Regions from separate parts of the Homo sapiens genome. Here region 2 is linked to region 1. Evidence: fine-mapped expression QTL. Tissue or cell type: naive CD4 T cells. Region 1 holds a variant in brackets; the other region holds the start of a gene. All regions are shown on one strand. Distances are between the middles of the regions.

Region 1 (8,104 bases):
CCTCAGGTAATCCACTCTCCTCGGCCTCCCAAAGTGTTGGGATTATAGGTGTGAGCCACTGCGCTTGGCCTGCCTTTTCACTCTCTTAATTGTGTTTTTGATGAACAAAAGTTCCTAATGTTAATATAGTTCAACTTATCTGTTTTTTTTTGTTTTTTTTTTTTATGGTTAGGGATTTCAGTGTCCTGTTTAGGAAGAGTTTTCTCTCACCTCAAGACCAGGAAGATATTTTCCTATTTTCTTCTAGAAACTTTATTCGTTTACCTTTCACATTTAGATGACCAATCCATCTGCAACTGATTTTTGTATATGGTATGAGATGGGGCCAAAATTTATTTTAAAAAAAGAAATACCAATAGCCAATTTCCCTAATACCAATTATGAAGACCATTTTTTCCTCTGTCCTCTGAGCTTCAAGTTTTGTCATAAATCCAGTTTTGTCTATGTATGTGTGGATTTATTTCTGGACTCTTTGGGTTTTTTGTTTGTTTTTTGAGACAGAATCTGGCTGCACACCCGGGCTGGAATGCAGTAGTGTGATCATGGCGCACTGCAGCCTTGACCTGTGCTCAAGCAATTCTCCCATCTCAGCCTCCCAAATAGCTAGGACTACAGGCACATGCCACTACGCCTGCATTTATTTATTTTTTATTTATTTATTTATTTTTTGTAAAGACAGGATTTCACCATATTGCCCAGGCTGATCTTGAATTCCTAGGCTCAAATGATCTTCCTGCCTCAGCGTCCCAAAGTGCTGGGATTACAGGCATGAGCCACTGTGCCTGGCCTGTTATTTTTCTATCCTTGCATCAATACCTCTTGGTCTTAATTACTGTATGTTTATAATAAGTCTTGGTTTCCAGTAATGTAGAAACTTCAATTGTAATCTTCTTGATGAATGTCTTACCTATTCTCGGGCTTTTGTATTTCCATATAAATTTTGGAAACAGATTGTTGATTTCTAAAAAAAGAAAAAAAGCGTTCTGGCATTTTTATTTGGATTATATTGAATCTATAGCTCAGTTTGGAAAATAAGTAATTTAACTTTTCTAAGTCCTTTTTCTCTTCTGAAAAAAAAAAGAAAAAATGGTGACTGAGCAATTTTTAAACTGGAAAAAATCACTACAGAAATGCTGGATTTTTATTATAAAATGAGAAGGAACACAGGCAAGGACTGGGGCAAGGTCAGCCTACAGTGGATTTCCAGAAGGTTGGAGTGACTCTGGAATCTGGTTGCCCTCAGGCGGCACTGGCCCAGGTTGCTGGAGCACGGGCTGTTCGGCTGCCGCTGGTTAGGAGTCAGGCTGGCTTCTAACTCAGAGGCTTGAGTCCAGGAAGAAGAGGCCGTGGGGTTTTCCTGCACCGTTGTTCCCATCCCATCCCCAGGGGGGCGCCACATTCCTTCTGATGATTGTGTGTTTGCCTTCCTGCATCTTTTTCTTTGTAGACTGGAAACTGCAGAGCAATCACATTACCTTTATTTTTCAAATGTGTCCACCGTGTGTCAGGCCCAGCTCTGGGTGGATTCACCTCCCCACTTGTTCTGTACAGAATGGCACACTTGGAGAGAGGACCAGATGTGCCAATGGGGAAAGGGCATCAAGACAGTCCCTCGTGACCCCCCACTGTCTCTAGGGTCCCCCTTCTGTTCCTTGGAGCACGTCCTGAGCCAACCTAAGGCCATTTGTGTGTTCATGTGACCAGGGCATAAAGGGGACACAACCTTCTTTCTCTGGAGTCAGCCTGTTTAGCAAACGCGAGGGTCTGACACCTCCTCTCTCCACACTCCCAGCCTCAGCCTGCCAGTTCCAGTGGTTTCTTTCAAAGCTTTCACTGCAGTCCCCTGAACAAATACTTTTTTCCCAAGAGGCGTTCCCCAGGCTGAAACAAGGGGAAGTAAATGTGACCCCACTGCATTGCCTCCCACAAGTCATTCTGCCTCCTTCATCCTGTCCTGGTCTTTGTCCTGTCCTGGTCTTCAGGGAGCCCCTGGGAGGGAGACCTGTGTCTGCAGCGGCCAGTGTCTAGCAGAGGTGGTGCCTCTATCCAAAGCCATGGCCCACTCTCCTGAGTGCGAGTGAGCCCCAAACAAACCTTGGAGAACCTTCCTGCTTTCAGGTGCCCCAGGATCCCTGAGCACTTCTGCCCATCTAGCCTCCTAGAGGAAGCCCAGTCGGGGGGGGGGTGGGGGAGGGGCGGTAGGGGAGTTAGCACCCTCTTGAGAAAAGCGGCAGGCAGGCAGCAAAGGAGAGAAGGATGCTAGCTGGAGTCTGTTCAGCCCAGGTGCCTGGGGAGGGTCCTCAGTGTCTGCAGCGGAGTCTGGATGTCCCTGCAATGGGCAGAGCCCCACATTGGGCAGGGCGGAGCTGGCTTGTTGAGGAGTCCTACCTGCCTCCACCATTCCCTGAGTGCTGAGTGGCGTGTGGGCTTTGTCTGGATGGCTGAAGGAACAGAACAGTACCTGTGGTATCCTTCTTTATCCCAGCCCCGCTGGACCCGGCCCCTATAAGGCAGTGTGGTAGGTGAACCCCCAGAGGACACCCTCAGACCCTCTTCTCGTTCCTGGGGGCGGGGGACGTGCTGTAGCCTGACCCCAGGAACATTGGGATTCCTACCTGTCCTATCCCCCCCTCCTGTGGGGGCAACCAGCCCCAGCTGAGGGGTACCAGATGTGAGAGTCGGAAGCGCACCCTCACCCTCCCTTCCCAGCAGCTGGCTAGAAGGCCTCTCTTAAAAGGCCTGGGTACCTGGCCGTGGGGTGTGGGGAGGAAGGAAGGGAGTGGGAGAGAATTAGACAAAGGAAGCCCACCATAAAACCAGCAGCAGGTCTGTAATCGTGACAGCCCTTTGTTTAGAGCCGGTTTAAACAAGTTGTGATCCTTTGGAAGGGGAGGCCATAAACCGAGGGGTGAAATAAAAGTGTTTACAGCAAGGGAGACCCAGGTGCTGGGGGGTTCGTTTGGCCAGGATCAATGCGGGAGCGGGGCCGGTGCGGCCTGGCCTGGCCTGGGCTTGGAGAATGGGCTTCCTCTTAGTGCCGGGCGGCTCCAACATCACAGACTCAAGCCCGACGAGGGGCGGCCCTCCCCACCCACACCTGCAGTCGAGGGGCAATCCCACATTCCAACCTGGGGGCACGGGGCAGGAGCCCGGGTCTGCACCATCTAGAGATTAATTGCCTGGGGCCGCAGAGCTTACAGTCAGCTTCTCTGCTTCTCTACAAATTCCTTCATAATGGACTTGAGGGAGTTACACTAATAAGAGGGTGTGAGGACAGTTGTTTCTCACAGACATGCCTCTTAGTCCCCACTTATCAGGCTGGGAAAGTTAGGGTTAGGGCCCGAGGGAGTAATATGGTTATATCTGACATGTCCCCAGCCCTGAGCCCCCCACACCTACCACCATTTCTGTCCTCCGCTCTGTTTAGCAATGCTGAATACATAAACATCACACAATCAGTCAGTCATTCCGTAAGTTTAACGAGCACTTCCGGTAGGGCAGACAACCAGGGCAGGGGCCACAGAGGTACAGGACACAGTCTCTGTCCTGAAAGTAGGGCAGTTTGGGGATAACTAGCAATAATATTCTCAGGACATGTCAGCTGGCATATACTCATGTTTTTAAAATAATTAATGCTCCCCAAGAATATATGTGTCCATGCAACACGATACCTTTGGAGAATGGCAGTACCAAATAAGACTAACATGGTCCTTGGAAGAATATCGTGCTGATGTCCTCCCCACGTAATTTGTTGTTTGTGCTCAGCAGGAAATGTTGCCAGACTTTTCTGCAAAAATTCACACTGAGGTCACACCTATACTAATAAGGAAAATGAGTAGTCAGAGGCACAAGACGGATCAGGCCCCTATTCTCCCTTAAGACATTTGTATGGCTCTTTAGCTTGCAACATTTGTGGAAGTGGGGCAACTACGTGGGGGCCTCTTAAAGAGAAAAGTCCCCATGAAAATGTCCCTTCTGTCGTTCATGTATTCAATTCTTGGATCAGCCTGGCCAGTTAAAGAGATGAGCTTTGTTCTGTAATACCCAATATGTTTTCTTCATTAGGAGAACAGTTCAGAAAATAAGCAAAGATGCCAGTTTCATCTTTAAAATGACTTCATTTTTTATAAATTGATTTCAAACACATTCTAGTCTGAGCCTGGCCACTCTGGTGACCTCCCTAGGACCATTTCCTTATTTGTAAAATAATCATATTTATAATCTCTGCATTCCTGCTTCGTTAATAACAACAACAAAACCCAAATAGGATTCTAAGTAGCATAGTGGCCTGATCAATTGCGCTGGTGGGAATCACATTCCTAATCACACAGTTAGGAAACATTTCGCGCCCTCCAGCATTTGGTAATATATACCATTTACTGGTGTAAGAGGCACGGGCCCCTCTGTCTCTTTCAGTGATTGATGCAAATTCTCTACTCTCCCAAAGCTCAGCTCCCTGGGGGAGAAGTCCTGGAGACTGTCCTTACTGTGCACTGTGAGGTTCAATAGGTGGCAGCAGCCTTTATCTCTGATGGCTGGCATCTTGCTGCCTTTGCTGAACCGGTTCCTGTGGGAACCGGTCTCCCCATTGCTCTAAGGCAGGAGTGTGTGTCCTTCAACTGTGATGCTGAGCCATTGCATCAGGAGCCTCTCAGATACATAGCTGCTGGAGGAGGACCAACCCTTGATATGGGGGTGCTGGGAAGGGAAGAGCGTGGTCCCTTTAAATGATACAGAAGGGGGTAAGGGAAGTGCAGGGTAGAGGAGGGCGTGGTCCCTGGCTAGGGCTCCACCCCCATGGACCTTGGTGAGGACAGGCATTTTTGTTGCATTTCCCAAGACCACCCTGGCCGACCTTCCACACCCTTATCCTGGACCTATAAAAACCCGAGACCCTAGCAGGCAGACACACAAGCCGCTGTACGTGGAGAAAAACAAATCGATGAAAGAAGACAAGCGGCTGGACATCGAGAGACATCAAGGGGAGCATGCCGGCAGAAGAGCACTC[A/G]GACAGATGCTGGCAGGCCATTGACCCGCGGAAGGAGGCGGAGTTTGGACGGGGCAGTCTGAGGAGAGCCTAGGCCGCCAGGTGGCCCAGCTCCACAAGGAAAACCATCTCCCTTCTGGCTCCCCCGTTTGACGAGAGGTACTTTTACTCAATAAAGCCTTGCACTCATTCTCCAAGCTCACGTGTGATCGGGTTCTTCCAGTACACCAAGGCAGGAAACCCCAGGATACAGAAATCCTTCTGTCCTTGTGATAATATGGAAGGGGATCTAACTGAGCTAACACAAGCTGCCTGCAGACAGCTAAACTCTTAAAAGAGTACCGTGTAACACATGCCCACTGAGGCTTCAGGAGCTGTAAACATTCACCCCTAGCCACTGCTGTAGGGTTGGAGCCCCACAGCCTGCCCGTCTGTATGCGCCTCTAGAGGTTTGAGCAGTGCGGCATTGAAAAGGCGAGGCGCACCCTCTATCGCAAGCCTTGCGAGGGGGACAGGGGAACTTTTACGTTTCAGCATCAGGAGAGCCAGCTCAGCCAGCTCGGAAGATCCTGAGAGAAGCCAGTACATGGAGATCGTGCCCCCCGGGTCCTGAAGGATCTGTTTTATGAGAGGAGAAAACACAGTGCAGGGAAAAGGCATGAACTTTCAGATTTGAGTCAGTTTTGAATCCCATCTCTGCAACTTAGTAATTGGACAAGTTATTTAACATCTCTATACCTCAGTTTTCTCATCTGCAGAATGGGGATAATAAGTACCCCCTCCCAGGATCTTGTTATGAGGATTACATGAGATGATGTCTATAAAGCTTCCTGGCGTTGTGAGTCCCTCCCTCCCTCCCTGCCTCCCTTCCTTCTCTCCCTTTCTTCCTTTTTCCCTCCTCCCTTTCTTCCTGTGAAACAAAATTTAGTATCACTCCCCACAAATTCTGAAAAATGAATTATAACAAAAATACTAAACCCTGTAGATGAGCCCTTCCTGTGTATGAAACATTTTAAATTCCTTCATCAAAGGAATGCAGTTTCACTGTCCGTATACACCGAATGGTGTTGAAGTGGTACTTCCGGTTCATGCACTGGAACAGACAATGGAGGTATAAAAATGAATGGAACGATCATTAAGCACAAGGCAAATGAACACAGAAACAGACAATTTCAAAGGCATGATGGATTTTGGGGGAAGACAGTGGAGGGCCCTGCCTGACTTGGAGCAGGAGCTGGGAGAATGGGGTTCTGGTGAGGTTAGTCTTCCTGAGAAAGTGATGTCTTTTGTAGAAAATAAATCTCTAAACTTTCAAGATATGTCAACTAAGTATCAACAAAATTGATTTAGAAACGATTAGTGGTGGATTCAATAGGAATAAGGATTTGCTTTGTATAAGGTCTCCTGACAAACAGCTCCTGGGTGTCTACTCATGAAACTGCACAGATGTGGAGATACAATGTATAAAAATGAATAAGAAATGACCTGTTCTCCAAGGAGCTTGTATTCTAACAAGCAAGTGAAAAACACTGTGATCAGCGTAGCTGATTCTCTGCTAGAAGTGCATAAAAAGTATATTGAAACTGTGGCTTCTCATTTGCAAAGTTCCTAGTTTTCAGCCACTAAATTATTTTAGGGGCCACTCTTTGCAGGTCCATGTTCCTTTCCCAGCCCTGCATGTAGGTGATTGGAATCTCAGAATTTGCTCTTGGCTGGGCAGCAACAGCCTATCTCTTTGTAAAACGGTTTGCAGTAACACTTACCAGAGAAGTGAGGCACTCATCTTACAGAATTCACTGGGGAGTGGGTCCAGGCCAGGCAGTGTTGGGGAGGACTTTAGATAGGGCAAAGGAGATGCAGGATCAGAGGCGTCTGGTCAGGTTGGCCACCTCCCCCGACTTCTGCATGCTGATTTCTTTCCTTGAGCCTCCTCCAAGAGTCCCGGCCTGATGGTGCTTGAGAGGTGGGCTCCAGATGGAAAGAGGGAAAGGAAGAAACCCAACATTTAGTGAGCATCTATTGCAAGCCAGGCACGTTCCATTGAACGGTGACATGGGCTCTGGAGATGGGCATGGTCCCTCTTACAGTTCGGGGAGCTGGGGCTTGGAGAAACCTGTCCCAAGACCCAGTGAACCTCGGAGCCGAGCCTGAGCTCCACCTGTGTGCTCCGCATTCTTTGCACACCTGTGCTTCCTACGCCTCACCATATGTGCTTAGTGGGGTGCTGGCAGATGAGGGCCAAATCTCAGTCACTTTCTCTTCATTACAGCACATGATGTAAACCTCAGTTTTATACTCTATCAGACTTGAACACATCATGGAGTAGAATGCAACACGTATGTGTGTGTTAAGGGTCAAGAGATCGAGGCCATCCTGCCCAACATGGTGAAACCCTGTCTCATCTAAAAATGCAAAAATTAGACGGGCGTGGTGGCCGGCGCCTGTAGTCCCAGTTACTCGGGAGGCTGAGGCAGGAGAATTGCTTGAACCCAGAAGGCGGAGGTTGCAGCGAGCCGAGATCATGCCACTGCACTCCAGCCTGGTGACAGAGTGAGACTCTGTCTCAAAAATAAAATAAAATAAAATAAAATAAAATAAAATAAAATAAAATAAAATAAAATAAAATAAAATAAAATAAAACAAAACAAAACATGATCTTCAAAGACATTTGAACTTTATTATCAATCTGTCTTCCGTTGTGCCCATCCCTGCACCCAAAGTGCCTGCATCATTCCAGCTCCCTGGGAACTCTGAATCAGAGCCCAGTGATTGAGCCTGCCTTGCTCATCACAAGATATGCACACATCTGCCGTGATCCACATGGAAAGTGCTTTGATTGAGTGCTGAATGCTGTGACGAGCATTAGAAATACAACAGGAATTCGGAGGGCCAGAGGTCTGGAGGGCTGGCAAAGCCAGGGGAGCACCTCTTAGGGGAGGCGGGTGTGGATGGCTGCAGAGGAGGGGTGACAGTCTGAGAATCCTGAATCCTGGAGGCGGCACTCTGATGTGTAGTGTGTGGACCCCAGGAGGCTGGATAGTAAGGAGGACTGCTGGGGAGGAGATGAACTGCTAATGGCAAGATGGGGATCCATTTATTAAAGGACCTAAGTCTTCG
Region 2 (8,104 bases), 41 kb after region 1:
GCCTGCAGAACCATCAGCCAAATAAACCTCTTTTTTTTTTTTTATAAACTACGCAGCCTCAGGTATTCCTTTATATCAATGTAAAATAGGCTAAGACAAAGAGATCTGAGCATATATATTGGCTGAGGGGAAGCACCAGCAAAGAGGGTGTAGAAGTTAGCTACTGCCACAAAATTGCTGCATAACAAAACTACCCTAGAGCTATTGGCTTATAGTCATTTATGGTCACAGATCTGTGGATTGGCTGATGGTCAGCTGATGGGAGGCAAGGCTCAGCTGAGATGGCTCGGCTTTGCCCCTCACATCTGTCTTTTTCCTGAGACAGACTGATGCAGAAATGTGGTCCTTGTGGCAATGGCAGAGCACAGGGAGCAATACATGAGGTCTCTTGAGGCCTAGGCTTGGAACCTGCACACCGTCAGTTCCAACTTACAGAATGGAAGCACGTCATGTGGATGGACTCGTAGACAATGGGTGAGAAAATATCTCCAGCCCTCTTTACGGGCAAAACAAAGCCACATGGCAAAAGGCAGCTAATACATGACATTTACTCACTTGAGCAGGCACACCATAGTTCTGTTTAAGTTCACCTTCGAGGTTGACCTTCATGACTCCCAGTTTTATCCCCTCCAGACCAAAGCTGTTTGGGCCTGGGGAAGAGCTTGAACCCCTATTGGGCCAAAGGTTCTCTTTCAGGGGGCATTAGCCATGGGGAGTTAAGGGAACAGATTACATAAGGTCTGGGCTGCTTGAGTGGAGCCAAAGCCCTCAGAAAACTACAATCACAGAGGCAGAAACTCATCCTTACCGATGAAGCTGATCTGCAGAGAAGAGAGTGGAGAGACAGGCAGAGGTAAGGAGAGGCCTGGGCCTGAGAGGACATGAAACCTGGGAGGGTAGGTGGGCAGGAGGGAGGAAAGGGAAGGTCATGGGAGGGAGAGCTGAGCAACGCACACACATGTGCACACAGGACATGAATGCAGCAGTCTAAGAGATGACTGGAGAGCAAAGGGGGAGTGAGACTAAGGAGGACAGCAGATCCCAACAGTGACAGACTGAGACCCAAAGCGTTTGCAGACAACTCTCCCACCCTGAGGCCTTTCTGTAGTTGGTCCCGTGAGATCCCCTTGTATCCTTACAATAACTCCCTTTTCATTAGATTAGTTTGAATGGAATTATGTTCCGTGCACACAAAAGATTCCTTGCTGAAGACATTCATGTAAAATCTTTAAGGCTTCACACAATGAGTTCATAGTTGTTCATTCAACTAATAAATAATAAGGTTAGCCCTTCATGTATGCATGTCGTCTTGCTACTGAGGACTCGAAAAGAGTATCTTCCAGTCTCTAGCCTTATAGAGGTTAAATCAAGATCAGAGAAATTAGAAATTATGTGCCTAAATAGTTAAAAATAGCCCAACACATTTGAGCATTACTATAGAAAGAAAAGGCCACAAAAGTTCAAAGGAAGAGAGGGCGGGTGCGGGTTGCAGTCACCAGGGGAGGCTTATCTAGAGGAGGCAGAACTTGATCTGGGCCTGGACTTGAGCCTCAGGTAGGAAGGGGCCTGGAGGAGGCCTGCACCCTGGGCTTCCATGTCCCACCTGAGCATTGTTACCTGATTTGTAGGAATAATAGCTAGCAGGAATACAAATGCTTTGCAAATACTAGTGTTGTAAATTTAAACCTATAAAGTCTCGGGTGTTTTAGGGAGATGACACGGGCAGCTATAGGCAAGAGAGACTAAAGGCGGGAGAGTGTAAAGGCAGGAAAATCTGTTGACAGGCTGTTACAGGTGTCAAGGCCTAGAGCAAAGAAAAGCCTAGCAGAGGTGGGGAAGGAGGAAAATGGAAAGGACAGGTACAGAGGCCAGCTAGGGAAGTGCAGAGGAGAGAGCAGGTGATACTGTCAATGGTTTCCAACCCTGAATAAGAGACTCATTTCACTGGTATGGTGGCAACAGCATTTTCAAAAGCTTCCAGGTGACTAATGTGCAGCCAGGGTTGAGAACCACTGTTATAAGTTTTCGTGGCTGGAGACAGAATTATGCCACCATTGACAGAGAGAAAAAGGGCAAAAAGAGGTGTGGCCAGAAAAAGGCAGTAAGATTGACTTACAAAGAATGTTGAGTTTAAGGTGACTGCCTGACATTCAAGTAAAACACACACAGACAGACAGACAGACAGACAGACACACACACACACACACACACACACACAAACCAAACCCCAGTTGTCATCTAGAAATGTGGGATATTAGAAAAATTAGAAAAACACATTGGGGGCCAGGCGCAGTGGCTCACGCCTGTAATTCCAGCCCTTTGGGAGGCCGAGGCGGATGGATCCCTTGAGGTCAGGGGTTCGAGACCAGCTTGGCCAACATGGTAAAACCCCATCTCTACTAAAAATACAAAAATTAGCCACGTGTGGTGGTGCGCACCTGTACTTCCAGCTACTCAGGAGGCCGAGGCAGGAGAATCATTTGAGCCCGGGAAGTGGAGGTTGCAGTGAACCGAGATTGCCAAGATTGCACCACTGCACTCCAACCTGGACAACAGAGCAAGACTTTGTCAAAAAAAAAAGAAAGAAAGAAAGAAAGAAAAACACATTGGGAAGTAAACTGCAGAGAGAAAGGAGGTGGAGCTGTGGATCACAGGGTGAGAAAGAACAAAGAAAAAAGACCAAAAGTTTTTGAGTATACAGAGTGACCTGGATCCTATTAGCTGCTTTACGTGGAGAGTTGTTGGAAGAGCTGTAGATTGGTGGTAAATGTGTCTAGCATAGGGGATGGCACATAATAAATACAACTATTGGTTAATAGAATTTCATTTAATTTTAAAAATGACCCTTACTGGTGGGTATTAACAGTCTCAGTTTAAAGATAAGAAACTCAAAGAGCCCTTATCCAAAATCCTAGTTAGTAAATTTAGAGTTGGAATTCAACGTCAGGGGATTGAGGCTGAAAGCCAGCGCTCGCCTGCTATAATACATCAGCGCACAGGGCTAAGCACCAACCTAAAAAGGTGGAAGAACGATTGTCCAAGGAGACAGGACAAGTCAGGAAGGCAGGGGGAAGCCATGAGTATGGCTATGCTGCATGGGGTCAGTGGCCAAGAAAGGCCAAAAGAAAGGAGGATCTCAGAGATTTACCGTGCACCCTGGCCCTGGGCATGAGGCATGGGGAGGAGAAAACCAGAACTGGCGCAAGAGAAACCATTTTAGAATTCCGGAGTTGTGGGAGGGATGAGTGTAGAATTCTCCCATCCATGGACAGGGGCTAGAGTGGCAAATGAAGAAAGCAACAGGTGGACCCAAGGCATAGACACTCTCACAGCCCCGTTATCTTGAGACGGAGGATGACACAGGCGTTATCAACTTTCCCACTTTCAAGATGAGCAGACTGAGGCAAAGGAGTGTTTATGAACTGGAATACTCAGTTCATAAGCACTGATGTTAAGCCCTGGCTTGTTTCCAGAACTGCACTGCTGTGCAGGGACCTGTTCATCACATTCCGACAAGGGCTTAATGATTCGGAATAATGCAGGATGTGAAAAATATGGATCTGGCGAACATCCCCCAAGTCATCCTGCCAGTTATCTGTATCCAAGGACATTTTTTAGGCATGTGGTCCTCATAAACTAAGATACTCATATTCATTCAGGCCTCTCAAAAGTGCTTCTCAGGTTTTGATATGCACTGAATCACCTGGAGATTTGTTTCAAGTAGGTCATCAAGGCTCTAGGGCAGTGTTCCCAAACTTTTCCTTTTTTTTTTTTTTTTTTTCCAACCACCTGGTCAGTTTGCCGGGGTGGGGAAGGGTAGGATGGGGAGACATCTGTATTTATTCTTTTAGAGCTCGGGGTCTCACTCTGGGCTCAAGCGATTCGCCCGCGTACCTGGGACTACAGGTGCGCACTACTGTGCCAGGATAGTGGTTCCCAAACTTTTCTGCGCATTGAAATCACCTAGGAAGTTTCCAAAAATACTGATGCCTGTTTCCTACCCCCAGAAATTGTGATTTAAGTGGTCCAAGTATCCTCTAGGCTTCGGGATTTTGTAAAGCTCTCCACGTGAATCTGAGCTTAGGAACCTCTGAACTGGGGCTTGCAGCAGAAGCACGTAAAGCACGCAAAGAAACGAAACCACACAGGTCACACTAGTAATGTGGCAACAGGCTAACTTAAATTATGTAAGGCTAGTGCTTTCCAGAGTGTACTGGAGGACGGGAAACAAGCCCCATTTAAGCAGTGCCTCGGGATTTGAGTTGCCTGTGAAACGCAGCAGCCTTCTGCCGAGGACGCAGAAACCCCCGCCTCTCATCCAGGGCTGACAGGGCACGGGCCGCGAGCCGCGGCGGGGCCTCCTGGCGCATGCGCGATCTCCCGGAGCATGCGCAGCAGCGGCGCCGACGCGGGGCGGTGCCTGGTGACCGCGCGCGCTCCCGGAAGTGTGCCGGCGTCGCGCGAAGGTTCAGCAGGGAGCCGTGGGCCGGGCGCGCCGGTTCCCGGCACGTGTCTCGGCACGTGGCAGCGCGCCTGGCCCTGGGCTTGGAGGCGCCGGCGCCCTGGATCCGCCGGCCGTGGTCGCCGAGTCGGTGTCGTCCTTGACCATCGCCGACGCGTTCATTGCAGCCGGCGAGAGCTCAGCTCCGACCCCGCCGCGCCCCGCGCTTCCCAGGAGGTTCATCTGCTCCTTCCCTGACTGCAGCGCCAATTACAGCAAAGCCTGGAAGCTTGACGCGCACCTGTGCAAGCACACGGGGGAGGTGAGGGGGGCGAGGCTGCCAACCCTGGGCCTAGGGATGGCGCGTGGCCCCGGGGTAGCCACTGCAGTCGTGGCCAGGGCCGCAGGCCCCGCTGTGCAGCGCGTTCAGCTTTGACATCCAGGACTTGGGGAAGGAGCTGAGGAAGTAGACAGGAAGTTGTAGGACCTTCGTTCTGCGACCTTGATATCCATGGCAGGGGCTCGGGATTTACTAAGCAGTCATTGATCGTGAGTCTCGGCCAGCCAAGTGCCTCCCGTAATCTGCAAATAAGTGTGAGGTTTGAGGGGGCCCACCGCTACTAGACACCTGCCAAACACTGGCCCCTGGAGCTGGTACAGAAGATGGGTTACATGTACCAGGGGTCGTGAAAGCAGCATGTGCTCATTTCTTCGTAACTCCACACTGGAGAGAGCAGTGAGCAAAACAGGCAAACCCAAGGTTTCTGCTGCCATGGACCTTTGTTCCTGGGTCGAGCCGACCACAGGATAGGTGGGAATGACATGCAGTGTTGTGGTCAGGAAAGGCCTCTCTGTGTGAGCCGTGTAAGAAGGAAGGATCTAGCCATGCAGACATTTGTGCTAGGTAGAGAGAACACAAAGGGAGCCTGTGACCCTTGGGGTGGGAGGCAGGTGGGTGTGTTTGGGTGCGGAGATCACCATATGAGGTCTGAGAAGTAGGCCCATTAGGAGTTTGGATTTTATTTTGAGGGCAGGAGAATGTCAGATACCATGATATGACGTGGCAGCCCATGTCACACACAAGTGAGGAAAACGAGGGTCATGGAGGTCAAGGAATCTGCCCAGCTTCCCAGTTTTTGGCAGAGCTAGGCTTCACACTGCCTCAGCTTAAAGCCCTTAATTTCTTAAACCACTGGGCTGCAGTCCATACCTTTGCCCCTTGCACCTCCTCTAATTTATGGGCCACCTTCTCCAGGTGTCCTCCGGGGCCTCATTCCTTAACCTCTCCAGCACTGGAAGGCCGACCGCTTCTTCCTTGAGACCTTCTCTGGTTCTTTTCCTCTTCCTCGTCTGCCCTTTTCGTTGGATCCTCTTCTGCCCTCTGCATGTTCCACCCCGCCCAGCTCCCTCTTGCGGTCTTACATAGCCACCGGCATGACTCATAACATCCTTTATGCTTTGCCCCTCTGCCCTTCCTCTTGCCCGTTCTAGCCTCTAAATTCTGGGCTCTGTATTACCAGTAGATCCACGTAAGAGCTTGCCTTTCCTTTTAGACCGGTGTGCTGTATTTTGGATACTGGCGCTACCAGTTTCCTTAATACAGGTTGAAAAACTTGGAGTCATCTTTGTTGTCCCAGATCTCTCATGCAGATTAATTTGACAAATGTTTATTGAGCCTACTCCACGCCTGCCGCTGTGCAAGGTTCTGTGGCTCCGCCCCTGGTGGTATGTAGCTCACTGTGTTCCTGTTTGCTTGTTTTGCTCCTAGTACTCTCATGGAGGCCTCGGTGCCTCCCTCCTGGACGCCTTGGTAGTATGCTTTTCATAGTTTGATGCACCAAACTGGTTATTTGGTTATTTGGGGTGTGTGTTTGGCTTTTACTATAGGTTCAAAATGAGTCACCCCCTCCCAACTCCTGGGTTACAAAAGGTGGTTGCATTTAGGGTGTTGAGCTGTTTTCTTTGCTTCGCCCTGGCACCTGTGAGCTTTTTCAGGTGTGACACACTTTCCTATAGCTGTGCTTGGCATTATCCTAGCACAGACCCTGGGCTTGTCTGGGATGAGACAGGCCTCCCTCGTTCCTCTGCCCTAGGCTTGCTTTTTTACATGTTAAATCATGCGGTGGTGGGGATCCATGCAGACAAGCCATGCTAACAGCCAGGGCGTCTTTAAGAGGGGGTTGCTGTGAAAGCCTGCTGCCGGGTTGGGAGCAGGTTAAAAATGCTATGCCTGCTTATTTTAAATGCTGTTCATGGAACAAAAATCTGTGTAGTGACTTTGTGAGAAGTTGTGATGTTTATGTTGTGTAACTTTGTGCAGGAACACTGCGTCTTGCAGTGGGTGCACAGCTCTGAGTAGAAACCACCTCTTCATAGGAAGCCTGTGGCCTTAACACTAGGCAGTTTAAGCTTTTAAATAATACCAGAGTTACTAACTAGTGCAGAAGTGACATGCTTTTTCTTTTTTCCTGCTAGAGACCATTTGTTTGTGACTATGAAGGGTGTGGCAAGGCCTTCATCAGGGACTACCATCTGAGCCGCCACATTCTGACTCACACAGGAGAAAAGCCGTTTGTGTAAGTAGAGACCTGTTTTTAGGCTTTTGAAGTGGGTTGTGTTGGGCATATAGACCCAGTAAGAAGATTGATGTTAACTCACGAGATCAGGAATGTGAAGCCTGGCAGGGCTCGGTGGCTCATGCCTGTAATCCCAGCACTTTGGGAGGCGGAGATGGGCAGATCACTTGAACCCAGGAGTTTGAGACAAACCTGGGCAACATGGTGAAACCCCGTATGTACAAAAATACAAAAATTAGTCAGGGATGGTGGTTTGTGCCTGTAATCCTAGCTACCCAGGAGGCTGAGCTAACATAAAATGCTCATGGGTGGGGACAAGCTAAAGTATATCAACACAATGGGATACCCTACAGCCAGGAAAATGAATGCAGATGCTCTCTGCAAAGCCATGAGAAAATCACCAGGGCACTTTAATTGAAAAACCAAGGTGCAGAAGAGTCCTCTTTAGGCTACTTTTATGTGTGTAAAAAAGCTAGGGGGTAGGGGGAGGGGTGAGTAGTGGGTGTTGGGTAGGCAGGAAGCAACTATATTTGTATTTGTTCCTATTTGTAAAGAAGTCTTAAAAGTTACATAACAAAACTAAAAATGTCATCTGTTTTGGGAGCAGTGGGGGATCCTGGCCAAGTAGGGGGTGGGGATGGTAGGAAATGCCATGCAACCAGGAACTACTGGACATGACTCTTCCAGCTCATGATCTAACCCAGACCCTGCCCCTCTTTAGCTGTAGTTCCCCGTTTCCCACTGCTCGCTGGACAGTGCTACTTGGCTATCTCTGTGTCTTCTTAAATTCCATGTGGTAGGCTGGGTGTGGTGGCTCATGCCTGTAATCCCAGCACTTTGAGAGGCTGAGGTGGGAGGATTGCTTTGAGGCCAGGAGTTCAGGCTGGGCAAGATGGTCAGGTCCATCTCTATTAAAGAAATAAATAAATAAAAAATTCCACATGGCCCAAATTTGTCACAGTCAAACTGAGCTCACTTTTCTGTTTGATCTTCTCTCATGTTCTTGTCTGGAGAGGTGGCCTCGCTGTCTGTCCAGTGACCCATAGCAAAGATAAGGCAGCTCCCTGGACTCTCCATTCTTTCTCCC

Evidence for each region. PIP is the estimated chance that this variant, and not a neighbour inherited with it, causes the effect.
Region 2: GTF3A starts here. The variant in region 1 is fine-mapped to the expression of GTF3A in naive CD4 T cells (Schmiedel 2018, PIP 0.95).

Annotation. Positions count from the first base shown.
Region 1 is chr13:27,378,767-27,386,870 of GRCh38, forward strand. No RefSeq gene overlaps it. Among named protein-coding and RNA genes, the nearest start is that of GTF3A, 42 kb to the right of the region's middle. RefSeq lists a silencer at 1,053-1,240 and an enhancer at 2,166-2,853. The variant A/G (reference allele first, on the strand shown) is at 5,009.
Region 2 is chr13:27,420,176-27,428,279 of GRCh38, forward strand. It overlaps GTF3A (general transcription factor IIIA), which reads left to right and starts at 4,444. Exons shown (of 9, transcript NM_002097.3): 1 at 4,444-4,763; 2 at 6,917-7,017. The coding sequence starts at 4,563. RefSeq lists silencers at 4,269-4,538, 4,549-4,608, 4,709-4,788, 7,862-8,104 and enhancers at 4,879-4,948, 5,899-6,118.